Homo sapiens: one gene and its partner. The protein of the gene in region 1 interacts with the protein of each later gene in a pairwise test. Each region holds a gene or a part of one and is shown on either strand. Other genes may lie near its edges.

Region 1 (6,399 bases):
CCACAGAGCAAATCTCAGAACAGCCAATTCTCCTTGGCCACATGCGTATCCTGGACCAATTCCCTTGACCAAGGAGGTGAGGTGCCTCCATTTGCAGGGCAGGCTCATGGACCCACCCCTGCGTGTGTGTGAGTGGGTGGTGGGGGCAGTCAGTCATTGTGACTGACAGCCCCGCTAGGACCGTATGAAATGAAATGGTGAAGGGCAACTCCCCAAAGGAAGGGATGCCAGGCAGACGGCGAGCAGAATGGATATACTCTACAGACCTTTCCGTTGTGACATTCCTTATATCTCCAAACTTTCACCCCAGCAACCAAGCACTTTTCAGTGTCAGCAGCATCCCTAAGCCTACATTTTAAGCAGTAGAGAAATATAATAATTTTTATTTGTATGGCATTTTAATATTGACAAAGCACTTTTGAACATGTTGCCCATCTGACCATCCATATCGTGTGCCGGAGGGATTCTTATTTTCCCCATGTTACAGATGAGGATACTGAGAGTCAGAGTGATTCAGTTGATAGCAAAATGTCATCCTCGCAAGAACGTGAACTTTGGAAACAAACCTGGACACTGATTTTGACAAACTACTTAACTTCTCTCCAAACCATGGTTTCCTCATCTCTAAAATATGGATAATAATAGCACCTGTCTCACAAGGTTGTGGTAAAGATGAAATAAAACAATGTATGAAGGACCAGTCTCAGCATAGACATACAATAAATGTTAGGCACCCTGTAATTGACTTATTGAGCTCACATAGCATGCAGATAGCTGACTCCAAATCCAGGTCTTTTCCTACCACACCAAACTAATTCCTTCAAAGGTACCTCCTCCCCAGGAGATTAGTATAAAAGTAACTATCATAGCTTTAACTGGGGTGGGTCTTCCAGCGTGCTGGGCACTGGTATCATGATATCCAATTTCCTGACCACGGCGGCAGACTCAGGTCTGGACATGTGCTCCAAGCAGGCCAGCTAGAGTTTTCCCTGAGATTTGCCTATGGATCCTGAGGGACAGAGTCTCTGCTGTTGACTTCCCCAAATAGATAAAGCTTACCAGGAAGTTCTACCATGTACTGGGGCTGCCTTTGGCCATCTGTTCTGCTGTGTGTTGAGTCTCTGCAGAGAAGGAAGCCACCACACCAAGGAAGGCAGTGTTGGGAGAGTCCCAGCGCATGTAACTCAAACAAAGCTTGTCACCCTGGGGCCAATTCAGGATAACATCCAACCACCCGCCATCACCACACATACAAATTCACCTCCAGAAAAGTCTTTCAAGAGTAAAGTCAGCTTTTCCCAAAGTCTCTCAAAAAAGGTAAAGAAGAGGAAAGCACATTATATAATACATGGTAGGACCTCCTGGTAAGCTTTTTTATCTATTTGTCTCCCGCCAAAAACCCCAAGTCAAAATGACTTGGAGGCTGCGTGGTGGCTCATGCCTGTAATTTCAGCAGTTTGGGAGGCCAAGGCAAGAGTACTGGGAGGCCAGGAGTTTGAGACCAGACTGGGCAACATAGGGAGACACCATTTCTACAAAAAATTTTAAAATTAACTAAGTGTGGTGGTGTGTGCCTGAAGTCCCAGCTACTCAGGAGGCTGAGGCAGGAAGATTACTCAAGCCCAAGAGTTTGAGGTTACAGTGAGCTATGATCGCGCCACTGCACTCCAGCCTGCGTAACAGCGTGAGACTCTATCTTTAAAAAAAAAAAAAAAAAGATTCTGTCTCTATTCCTCTTCTCTTGGCCCCTTTTCCCACCTTTTGTTTATTTTCATTTTTTCAAGAAATAGCTTTGTGACTTTTCTGAGTTTTATTTTTTCCCATTCTTTTTGTTTATTTTTAATTATATGAGTAATATACAAATACAGTCTCATTGTAATATATTCAAACAATACACATAAAGCAAAAGTCCTCCTTACTTACTACCCCTTCTCATCCTTCCCTCACCCTCCAGAGGTAACCACTATTAATTGGTTAGGTATGTATCTTTCCTGGCCTTTTTCTATATATTTACATATGTATTTAATAATACCAGGCATTGTCAGGCACTTAACATAAGCACTCTGTTCCTGAAAATCAAGTGTTCAGTAACAAAATGCAATTTGGAAACCTATTTCCGAATTATGTAAAATAGGAAAAATTCAGATGCATTACAGATTAACTCAAAACTCTAAAACACAGTGAAATGCCTACATACAAATGTATAAGAAACAAAGTAACTTGTTAGGATGTAAAATGCCTAAAACTTTACTTCCTTGACCCAGTTCATATGGTTCTAACAACCTTGTGTCGAGTGAACTCAAGTCATTATCCATATAGGTTTTGCTTAAAATGTTGTATTGAGTTGAGGGGACATAAACTAAATTGATTTTATGCAATCAGTAGCCAAAAATGTTGGATTGAGAGAAATGTGCATTTTATGAAACATTGGAGTATGAAACATCAAAAAGCCTTCTAAAGGAAAACACAACTGGGGGAATTGTTCTGCAGGGAATGCCAGCTAGTATTTAGGAATGTTTGCTATAGGCCAAGCACTCTTCTATGCGTTTAAATGGGTGTAGAAATATTTAGCACTGTGGGCCAGGTGTGGTGGCTCACGCCTGTAATCCCAGCACTTTGGGAGGCCGAGGTGGGCAGATCACGAGGTCAGGAGTTTAAGACCATCCTGGCTAACACGGTGAAACCCCATCTCTACTAAATATACAAAAAATTAGCCGGGCGTGGTGGCAGGTGCCTGTAGTCCCAGCTACTCAGGAGGCTGAGGCAGAAGAATGGTGTGAACCTGGGAGGCGGAGCTTGCAGTGAGCGGAGATCGCGCCACTGTGCTCCAGCCTGGGCGACAGAGCAAGATTCCGTCTCAAAAAAAAAAAAAAAAAATTGGCATTGTGGATTCCATTCCTTTTGTTTTTCTAATTTTTATTTTTTAGAGACAAGGTCTTACTCTGTTGCCCAGGCTGGAATGCAGTGACACAATCATAGCTCACTGTAACCTGGAACTCGTGGGCTCAAGGGATCCTGTCACCTCAGCCTCCCAAGTAGATGGGGCTAAAGGCATATGCCACCATGCCTGACTAATTTTTGTATTTTTTGTAGAGACTGTCTGGCTACATTGCCCAGGCTGGTCTCAAACTCCTGGCCTCAAGCAATCCTCCAGTCCCAGCTTCCCAAAGTGCTGGGATTATAGACGCGAGCCACCTTGCCCGGCCTGCCTTCCTTTTAACACAAAGGGTCTGGCCACCTGCTCTTTCCTCTTAGTGTATGTTAGAGAAGGTTTCATAGAGCACACGTAACTCTACTTTTTTTTTTAACTCCTGCATAGAAATCCACAGTATAGATGGACCGTAATGTTTTTTATCATTTGCCTTTGGATGGGCATTTAGTTGTTCCTATTTTTTGCTATTATAAGCAATGCTGCAATAAAATCCTTGTACACGTGGGCAGGGCTTATATGCACTAGGCAGGGATTTTACTAAGATCAACGTGTTGAAATCAAGAGGCTTTTTCCAGTTCTCTTCTCAACCCATTACCAGCGCAGCCCATGGAAGGATTGAGCTGGCAGACAGACCAGACCCTTCCTTAGAAGGCAGGAAAAGGAAAGGGTGTGAACTGTTACAAGTTATTCTTTTTGCCCTGATCCACAGTGATTCTTGAAGGTAAGTATCATCATTTCCATTTTCCAGAGAGCTAGCATTAGGATTTACACCCACTTCTATATGTCTGCAAAGCCTTCTTGTTCTTTCTATTACCCAAGCACTCCTTCTCCAAGATTGGAAGACCAAGCCGCACCGCACCCCTCTGCCTAGGTCTGTGAGGACCCTCCATAACACCAGCTGCTCTGTCTTCCAGGTCCACCTGGCCGGACAGGTAACCGGGGAAAGCCAGGACCAAAGGGCAAAGCCGGGGCCATTGGGCGGGCTGGCCCCCGTGGCCCCAAGGGGGTCAACGGTACCCCCGGGAAGCATGGCACACCAGGCAAGAAGGGGCCCAAGGGCAAGAAGGGGGAGCCAGGCCTCCCAGGCCCCTGCAGCTGTGGCAGTGGCCATACCAAGTCAGCTTTCTCGGTGGCAGTGACCAAGAGCTACCCACGGGAGCGGCTGCCCATCAAGTTTGACAAGATTCTGATGAACGAGGGTGGCCACTACAATGCTTCCAGCGGCAAGTTCGTCTGCGGCGTGCCTGGGATCTACTACTTCACCTACGACATCACGCTGGCCAACAAGCACCTGGCCATCGGCCTGGTGCACAACGGCCAGTACCGCATCCGGACCTTTGATGCCAACACCGGCAACCACGATGTGGCCTCAGGCTCCACCATCCTGGCTCTCAAGCAGGGTGACGAAGTTTGGCTGCAGATCTTCTACTCAGAGCAGAACGGGCTCTTCTATGACCCTTACTGGACAGACAGCCTCTTTACGGGCTTCCTAATCTATGCCGACCAGGATGACCCCAACGAGGTATAGACATGCCACGGCGGTCCTCCAGGCAGGGAACAAGCTTCTGGACTTGGGCTTACAGAGCAAGACCCCACAACTGTAGGCTGGGGGTGGGGGGTCGAGTGAGCGGTTCTAGCCTCAGGCTCACCTCCTCTGCCTCTTTTTTTCCCCTTCATTAAATCCAAACCTTTTTATTCATCCAACCATCTATTTATTCACTTCTTTTTAAAGTATCTACTGTGTAACAGGCACTATGCTATTCTCTGAAAGATGCAGCAGTGGACAAGACAGAGTATCTGTCCTCATGCAGCTTACATTCTAGCAGGAGATACAATTTACAAATATACAAGCAAATAATATAATATTATGCCAGGATAGAAATGAACATGCCATGGTTGACAGTAATAGGAATAACAGGAGACAGGGAAGAGGTGGAAATTTGTTTCTTTTTTTAAGTTTGCGTTTTTAGGTTTACTTACATACAGTGACTCTCCAGATTTTAAGTTGACAACTCAGTGAATAATTTTTGCTTATGTGCACACTCTGAAACCTCCATGTAGATCAAAGAACAAGCTATTTCCAACTTCTCACCTCCCTTCCCCAAAAGCTCTCTTAAGACCCCTCTAAGTCAGTACCTGGAAAATTTCCATTTTTGAGCTGAGTTCCAAAGAAGGAAATAGAGCAACACAAAGGCCTCGAAAAGAGGTCTCCAGCAAAAGGCTCTGCAAGTGCAAAGACCTTGACAGGAAAGAGGGAGGGGCCAAGGTAAGAACTGAGAAGGGAGGCATGAGGCGTGAGGCTGGAAGATAATACAGAATGTCCCAGGCCATGGCAGAGCTCGTTCCATTCACGAAGGCTTATCAGAATACAAAGTGACACTGATAGGCGGATCATCTTGAATCTGCTCATTGCATGAGTCAAGTCGGCCACAGACTTGAGCGCTTTATTATTAGTTAATCTTTTGCAGGCCCGCTTCTCAATGAATGAGATACACCAGGATATGCACGTGCATCTGAGAACCGCTGCTCTGAGATGGCAGGAATGGATCCCACGCAAATGAATCGCACCCCAAGCACAGGTGTTGCCAGTATGCAGGGATCTGGGGGCTTAAGAAGCTGCAGTAAAAGTGCCAGGTGCTGGCGGGATGTGGTAGCTCATGCCTATAATCCCAGGACTTTGGGAAGCTGAGGTGGACGGATCATTTGAGGTCAGGAGTTCAAGACCAGCCTGACCAACATGGCAAAACATCGTCTAAAAAAATACAAAAATTAGACAGGCGTGGTGTTGGGTGCCTGTAATCCCAGCTACTGGGGAGGCTGAGGCGGGAGAATCGCTTGAACCCAGGAGGTGGAGGTTGCAGTTAGCTGAGATCCTGCCACTGCACTCCAGCCTGGGCAACAGAGTGAGACTATCTCAAAAAAAAACAAAAAAAAAAAAAAAACAAAAACAAAAACGCAGGTACTGAGAGACCCATGAAACGATTTGCTGGAGATAATTTTCAGTTGGAGCTGCAGCTCCCTAGCAGCTTTCTCTGGCTGCCCGCCTAGTGAGATCCTCAGGGACAAGGATAGCTGCACGGGATAGTTCCAGAAGGAGTGGCCATCTCCATAAATAAAATCGGGTTTATTTAAAATAACTCCATTGTCTCTGGGCCATAAATGGTTTGGGATTGGGGTGGGTCTGAAACATTCAGGAAAGGCTTTCTGGCCCAATCAGATTGACGTGTGGGTTGGGGTCCCCTGCAGCACCCCTGTGGGAAGGGGTCAGCTTTGGTCAGTGAACAGTTCTTTTTACCTTTTCTTTTTCTTACAAAAATAAATTTTAGGAGAGCCTTTCGCTTCTTCCTCTTCCTTCCCTCAGGGATATAGGCATTTGAAGGCATTTGACTTAACCCTTTGTAGCCCAGGTAATAAATCCAAACTCAGCAAGATGGGCTGGACCCCAGAGCTCTGTGGTTGCCACTTTT
Region 2 (7,113 bases), on another chromosome or scaffold:
TGAGGAAAAGCTATGCAAATGCTTTAAAAGCTTTAAAGGATGAAAAAGCTGCACTACTCTCCTCTATAGCACAACTTCAGGTTAAACCAGTCAAGCCTTCTTCGGTCTTTCTGTCCCTTCCCTTTCCCTTCTCCGCAGGTGGCTTTATCTGGAGGATTTCCAGGAAGGCTGGAGACAGGCATCTCTAATTTGGGTTCTGCCTCCTAGGAGCCAGAGGTGAGCTGGCAAAGTCCACTCTGGAAACCCTGCAGCTTCCTCACTCCACGAAGTCCTAATCTCTGCAGCTGCAGTGGTTTTGGAGGAGGACAGATGGGGAGAAAAGTGGGAATGTAACTGCAGTGTCTTTGAAGGCTGGATTCCCTGAAGGATTTTGGGGAACACAGCAGGGAAAGATGGAAATGGGCCCTGGGCAGTTCTCAAACAGGAACTGCAGATTCTGATACGCTAGTGCTCCCGGCAAACGCCAAGGATTCCAAAGAAATTGTCTGAGATGCAGAGGAGGCCAGAAAAGCCAGACTAAACATCCAAAGAGGTGGGGATATTAGAGGTGAGGGGCAATAAAAAAGAGAGAGAAAGAGACCTTACAAGACAAAGAGAGGCAAGGAAGAGAAATGAGGTGGTATAAAAGGGACCCCTAGAGACAATTTCAAAAGATGTGCTGGAGAGCAGACAGTTATTTATTTGAAGTCTGCAGCAATGTCACTGAGACTGCTGAAAATGAAAGAGAGAAGGAAACATTTCCACTCAACATTACTTTTTAATTGTTTATTCCATAGACTAGAAGTTAATTGACTTTTCTCTACATCCATGGTTCTGGGCCTCAGTTTCCTCATCTACAAAGCAAGGGGTTTGGACTAGATACCTTACAGGGTCTCTGCCTAACTTGATCCTCTCTGTCAACCTATGAGCCAGGGACTCCAAGACCAAGCATTTATCAGTTTTGATACCTAATTCCCCCCTTTTTCCTCTACCACCCCTCTTTATCAATGCAGTGTCAACACCTGCACCATTCATCGAACTGATGCCAATGCTCAATGATGACAGGGAGTATGGCTCAATTATGACAAATGATTAGTCCTTCTGCCCTGGAGTAAGGAAAGAAGGAATAGACAAGGCAGTATGATTTATACTGTGGATTTCCAATGAGAGGTTCTTCTCGAATTTTCAATTACAAATTTCATCCATTTAAATAAATTATAAATTCCTTTGAGGGGTTCCAAATGGTTGGACTGATCAAAGGGCCAAAGAGCCCTATTTGATGGCCCCCACACCCGATTTGAGGGAAAATTTATTTCATTTCATCCCCAAAATTGGATTTGCTTATTTCGTGGAAATCCAGCACGCACTAGCCATGCTTTTTTCTCATCTTTCTGCCTCATGCCCATTCTGCCAACCTGCTTCAGTGCAGCATTTTCTGGGGTTATTAAATACCCAAGGCTTAATGAGAGTGCATTCAAAAGTAAGTTGTTCAATGATGTAGGATCACCCCCTACTCCCCCCCACCACACACACACAAACACACGTAGGCAGTTTAAATGATAGTGGGGGTAAAATGTGTTTTCACAAGAGTTTCATTTTAAATTTGTCTCAACCTGAAATTCCTTTAGAAATTAAAATAAATATTAATATGTAGAAATAAAACTCCCCAGCTTTTCTTGCCTTCAACTGGAAAGTGATACACAAATAGTATGTACTTAGTGTTCTCCACAACCACCAACAATTCTATTTTATTTTAGTTTCCAAAATACGGACAGGAGGGCAACTCTAGAAAAATGGATTCCCACTCTGGCATCTCACAGGGCACTGATCAGGCAATGCGGAGCACTCATCATTTCCACCATGCAGGGAGCATCAGCCTCTCCTCGCTCCTTCCACGTACACATTCTTGTACCCCTGAGGGTATTCATCATTCTGATTTCCACCCGGGGTTTGACCTTGCAAAGACCCTTCTTCCAGTTTCTGGGCAAGGAACAACCCATTTTAACTCAAAACACAAAACGACCTTTTATCCTTTAAAGAAATACTACCAAATGTAACACACCTTGATTTACATTTTTTAACCCCAGATTCCGGATGGCGAACACGGAATGCAAAGGCAGGTAACTAGTTTGGGTCTGACAGTCCCCATTCAGCGACCGAGCCTGTGACTCCGTTCAAAATCGACAGTGCAGTAGAGCATCTTTCCCTTTTCTGCCCATTCACCATTGTGACAAAAATCAAAGACGAAAAAAATTATCTACTCATTTCTGAATACTGAGAGAAATGTGCTCATTTTGCGCCTGACTCCGTGGATCTTAAACACTAACATCCCGCTCAGAGATCAACCATGATTTCCATACCAATCTCATCCACTCAGTTTTACTTAGCAAACACCTTTGCTGCCCTTCCACAGTGAGAAAAATGGTGCACCAATCCCACGGATGACAGGTTGCTACTCGACTGTACCCGCTCAATAGTTTTATCAGCAACCGGAAAACTTCACAATCGGTCAATTAGCTACTTAAATCTGTCTAAGACAAACTAAGAAAGCATCTCAGTTTCACCTGTCTTAAATCTAGTCTAAGACAATCCCCCAAACACGCCGCATATAAACACTCCCCCTTCCCCCACCCCCAATATTCCAAAAGATCCCCCATGGACTAAGAGCACATTCAGATCGCCAGCATTAAGCAAGGAAATTGTCCCCATGCATTTAGACGCATCTATGCAAAGCAAAGTATGTGACAATAGCCAAAGCATTTCTCTGACAGTTGGTTGCACTACACATGCAGAAATGCAACGAAGATTGTATTTTCCACTTACAGTTACAGCGCTGCGCACGGTCACTTAACGAAAATGATAAAACTCAACAGTTCTTTTTAAAAATATATATTTAATTCGGGTAAACGCTTAAGCCGTCTCTGTGTGTGGTTCTCTCTCGCTCTCTTTTTCTCTGGAGCTCTGGGCTGCTTAAATCCCTCTTGGATCGCGCCTTGCAAGCCCAGCCGCTGCCGCAACACGCTCGGGTAAATCTCTGCTGCAGATTGGGAATCCCATAGAAAACCTAGGGTCCCTGGAGCTGGATGCGCAGGCGCGCGAGCCTCCGCCTCTCCAGGCACCCCCTCCCCTTTCCTCTCTTCCCTCCCCCCAGCTCCGCAGCCCCAGCTAGGAGAACTCGGGAGCCTGTGACCAAAAGCCGCCTGGCGATGGCGCATGCTCAGTCGGAGGGGCTCGGAGTTTCCGCGGGTGGATTCCACGTCTCCAGATTTTAGCAAAAGCTCAAAAGGAAAGTATATAGGAAAAGGGAGTCCGGCTACCGGAGCAACCCGCACCTGGACGGGCGCGAGGGACTGCGGGTTACCCGGACTCGCCACGCCCAGTGGTTACCGAACCTGGGGGCTGAAGGCCGAGGCCAGAGATGGAACACGTGGAGCCGCTTTTCCCGCTGCTTTCTGTCCTAGCCGACCCCCGGCCCACCCTTTGTTAGGCTGTAAGGTGAAGGAGAAAACTGCAGAAATCTCCGAAAGAAGACTTCCCAGCAAGCTGTGAGCACGTCTACCTGGCTTACTGAAGGAACGGTTATGGTGGTCATTTTGTCATGGGCCATTTCATCAGAGGGTCTTCTGCTAGGAGTACTGGGAGCCGGGTCCTGCAGCACCCAGTGCCCCGGACAGTCTCGGTCCAGAACGGCGTTGAAAAAATGTGTGTTAAAGGGAGCTGGGATCCGAGGCTTCTTGCCCTGTGTACCCTGAGCCAAGCGCCTTCTGTATGCACTTAAGTGTTTTTAACATATGCTTTGCGTCTGGGGTGGGAGGGGGTGGGTGAAAGGGCGGGAATGAACCATTTTGCGAACCCACGTTTAAGGGCTCTGATTAGGCCATCTTATAAAGCCCCCTTTGTGTCCTTGAACAACTAACAGGTTTGCCAGCCCTCCCCCCGGCTCCCCATTGGCCTGCCAAAGCCTAGAAGGCTTGGCAAGGAGTAGTGCCCAATAAATGTTTGGTCGGTCGCTTCCCTACCAGAAAAGCAAGGAGAATTCCCAGATGTTCCCAACCAGACCAGTTTTCCTCAAGTGTGTATGTTGTACATGAACTCATTCAACAATTATTCATGGAAGCATTTGCAAAACTATTAGACATTCCTTTATGCTTTGGGAATAAGTGCGGTTAACAAAACCCCCTCCTGGGCTTTACATTCAGGTGGGAGTTTTATTTTCAAGGGAGGGAAGTTCTGGGGGCGAGATGAAGATCGAGGTTCTCCTTAAGCAGAGCGCTGTACAATTTGCACAGCGTCTTCACACACCTTATCATGTTCAGGAAAACTGTAGAGTTGACCTACCCTTCGGTGCTGGGGACACCAAGAGCGTCTCCCGTGGCAAATGAGCTCTAAATTGACAAATCTCCAGCTGCTCCTGGTTCCAAGTCGAGGAGTCCAGCTTTGAACAAACTTGAGACTACTTAAGTGGGCACCAGGAGAAACTCCGCCAGACAAGTCTGTGGCTGTCGACATGCTAAGTGAGGGCCTCAGGCAGTGATGCCTAAGCCTCATTCGCTGCCAACCTAGCCAGCCCAGAACCCAGGAACTGGCTTCCCGGGCAGGACGCCTCGGGAAGGTTGCGCAAAGGGGGAGCGCGCTCTCGGGACTCCCGGGACACCGCCCGCGGCTGTCCCCTCTCGGCAGGGCTCTTCCGCCAGTGCTGGTGACCGCGGAAACCCGGAGCGCGGAGTCGCGCGGACCACGGCGCGCGGCCCCGGCGGGCTGCGGCAGCCGAGCACGTTTAGAATCTGGCGGGCGCCAGCCCTTCGCTCTGGAGCCGCAGTGCGCACTGCGCTGCGGGGCTCCCGGGCGCGCCGGGCTGCTCCTGTTTCCTGGGACTGGCAGGGGGAGTCAGTCCTGAATAAGTCACTTTTTCTTTTTAGCTAGAAAAACGACTTTCAAAAGGCTTTCAAAATCTCGTCTTTGGTCGATTTCCCCTACTACAGCATTTTACGCTGAGTTCTAGTTTCTCTCTCGAGAACAGCCTCCGCACTGTAATCTGCATCAACCCAAAGGGTCATGATGCCATTTCTCCACTTCAACGAGATATACCTATTTATTGCACCCTGGAGGTCTCTTTCGTGGCGGTGTTCGATTTTAGATAACTTACTTGCAACTTGTGTTTAGGAAAAAATGTACACTGATACTTTAAACCATGCTCTGTTGTAGGGTACGATTGATATCGACGCGTGCGCTTTTGTAAAGTAGCTTTGTCTACGTGGGCGGGCAGATTTTTTAAAGTTCCATTTGCACTGCAGCGCTGTTTGCGTCCTAAATGCGATATTGTAATGTTTAATATCCAGCTATTATGTAGCTTTATCTTTTTCAGCTTCTAATATTTTGTTGCTGTTTAATTTTTTTGGCATGCCTTTTAGTCGAGTTGTATATACGAAGTCACAGTAAGAAAGCCAATTCTAAGACTCCTAAGGAATATTATCGTTTAAATTACAGAAGGCAAATCCCCTCTTTAGGATGGGAGAATGTACTTGAAGGGAGGAATGTGGCAGGGTCCCTCAGAAGTGAGGGAGCCCGCTGTTCCTCCTTCAGGCATTTGCGGATGGCACTGGTGATCACAAAAAAGCGGAGATTACGCTGCCGGGCGCTCCTGTGGTAGAGGGACTGGAACACTGTCCCATGTTGAGTGAAGAATGCCATCAGCTTTACCAGTTGTCCCGTTACCTAAAGCCACGTCCCCAACTCTACAACTTTCACACCCTGGATTTTTTTTGGGGGGTGGGGGGGTATAGAGGAGGAGGAGGAAGGTGCTGTAGGTAGGGGCTTGTTTCTTCCTTCCTGTGTATCTGGTAGAATCCTCAATTAACCAGAAACAACTGAAGAGCTATTTTTCTTCCTTCAGTTGCAAATTATGTTCTTTATAGAAATTTCTAGCCTTACTTCCACCTTATTTCTTCCCAGATTCAAACAAACAAACAATACCAACAGTAGATTTTCAGGTGTAAAATACTCCATGTAATATTCTCACTCGCTTTGTGACGTGGACGAATTGAAAACGGAGAATGACAGTAAAAGTGTGAAATTCCAGTAGTGTAACAGGTCTAAGCTCATAGTCCTGGGAACTCCTGGTAATATTATTTATTAGAAAATTTGTGTGTAAAATATATGAGCCAAGAAGGGTGGAACTTAAGGCATGGGGATATTTTTTAAAAATTGGAAGAAAACTTGAAAGTCATTATTAGAAAATGAAAAGAGACCGGAATTGAAGAATGGATTTATACTCGTTTATTCTTAAAGAATAATGATAGTAATTTACTTCTATGGATAGCATACCTTTATTCCAAAAGCAAAGGGTATTAATCATTACAGAAAAGGTGTGTTACGTAAGATAATTATATTACGTAAGATTTTTTTTTGTTTTTCTGAGAGAGACAGGGGTCTCGCTCTGTTGCCCAGGCTGGAGTGCAGTGGCAGGATCATAGCTTATTGTGGCCTCAAACTCCTGGGCTCAAGTGATCCTCCCGCCTCAGCTTCCCAAGTGGCTGGTACTACAGACACACACCACCACGCTTGGCTAATTTTATTATATTTTTGTAGAAACAGGTGTCTTGCCATGTTGCCCAGGCTGGTCTGAAACTCCTGGTCTTAAGCAATCCTCCTGCTTTGGCCTCCCAAAGTGCTGAGATTATAGGCATGAGCCATCTTTTCCAGTCCTATTCTGACTTTTTAAATCTTTTTTTAAAAGATGCAGATAGACCAACAAAATAAAATAACTTCCCTATAGTCAAATAGGAAGTATCTCTTAGAATACAGCCCTACAACAGTTTTTCTGACTCATAGACTGTCTCATTGTATATGTCTGTGCCCCTTCTACATGTTTTTCTAAAATACTGAAAAAAATGCAAGACCATGAAGCAGTGATTCCCATGCAGTTAATGGGTGAGTTTTAGGCCTCCTTCTGCAGAGAAGGGAATAAAAATTCTAGTTTTAATGAACTTGATTGATCATGTCTCCCAGTCCTCCTCTGATTTCACTCTGTAATCCATGACTGGATCTAAATTCAGTCTGAAAGATCACTCTGTCTGTAGACACTAATTTCCTCAAAATTTGAACAATCCACAATAAAAGTTTCATAAGGCCCTG

Evidence for each region. Proteins that work in one complex are often made in the same cells at the same time.
Region 2: the proteins of C1QTNF2 (region 1) and VSNL1 interact in binary tests that used the Homo sapiens proteins (3 or more experiments, as listed by UniProt).

What each region holds. Positions count from the first base shown.
Region 1 is NC_000005.10:160,347,229-160,353,627, reverse strand, and holds the end of C1QTNF2 (complement C1q tumor necrosis factor-related protein 2 isoform 1 precursor), read left to right. Parts: intron 1-3,751; coding exon of another isoform or gene 3,752-3,846; coding exon 3,847-4,460; 3' UTR 4,461-5,874; downstream 5,875-6,399. UniProt on the Homo sapiens protein: Involved in the regulation of lipid metabolism in adipose tissue and liver.
Region 2 is NC_000002.12:17,536,608-17,543,720, reverse strand, and holds the start of VSNL1 (visinin-like protein 1), read right to left. Parts: upstream 3,026-7,113; 5' UTR 2,803-3,025; intron 1-2,802.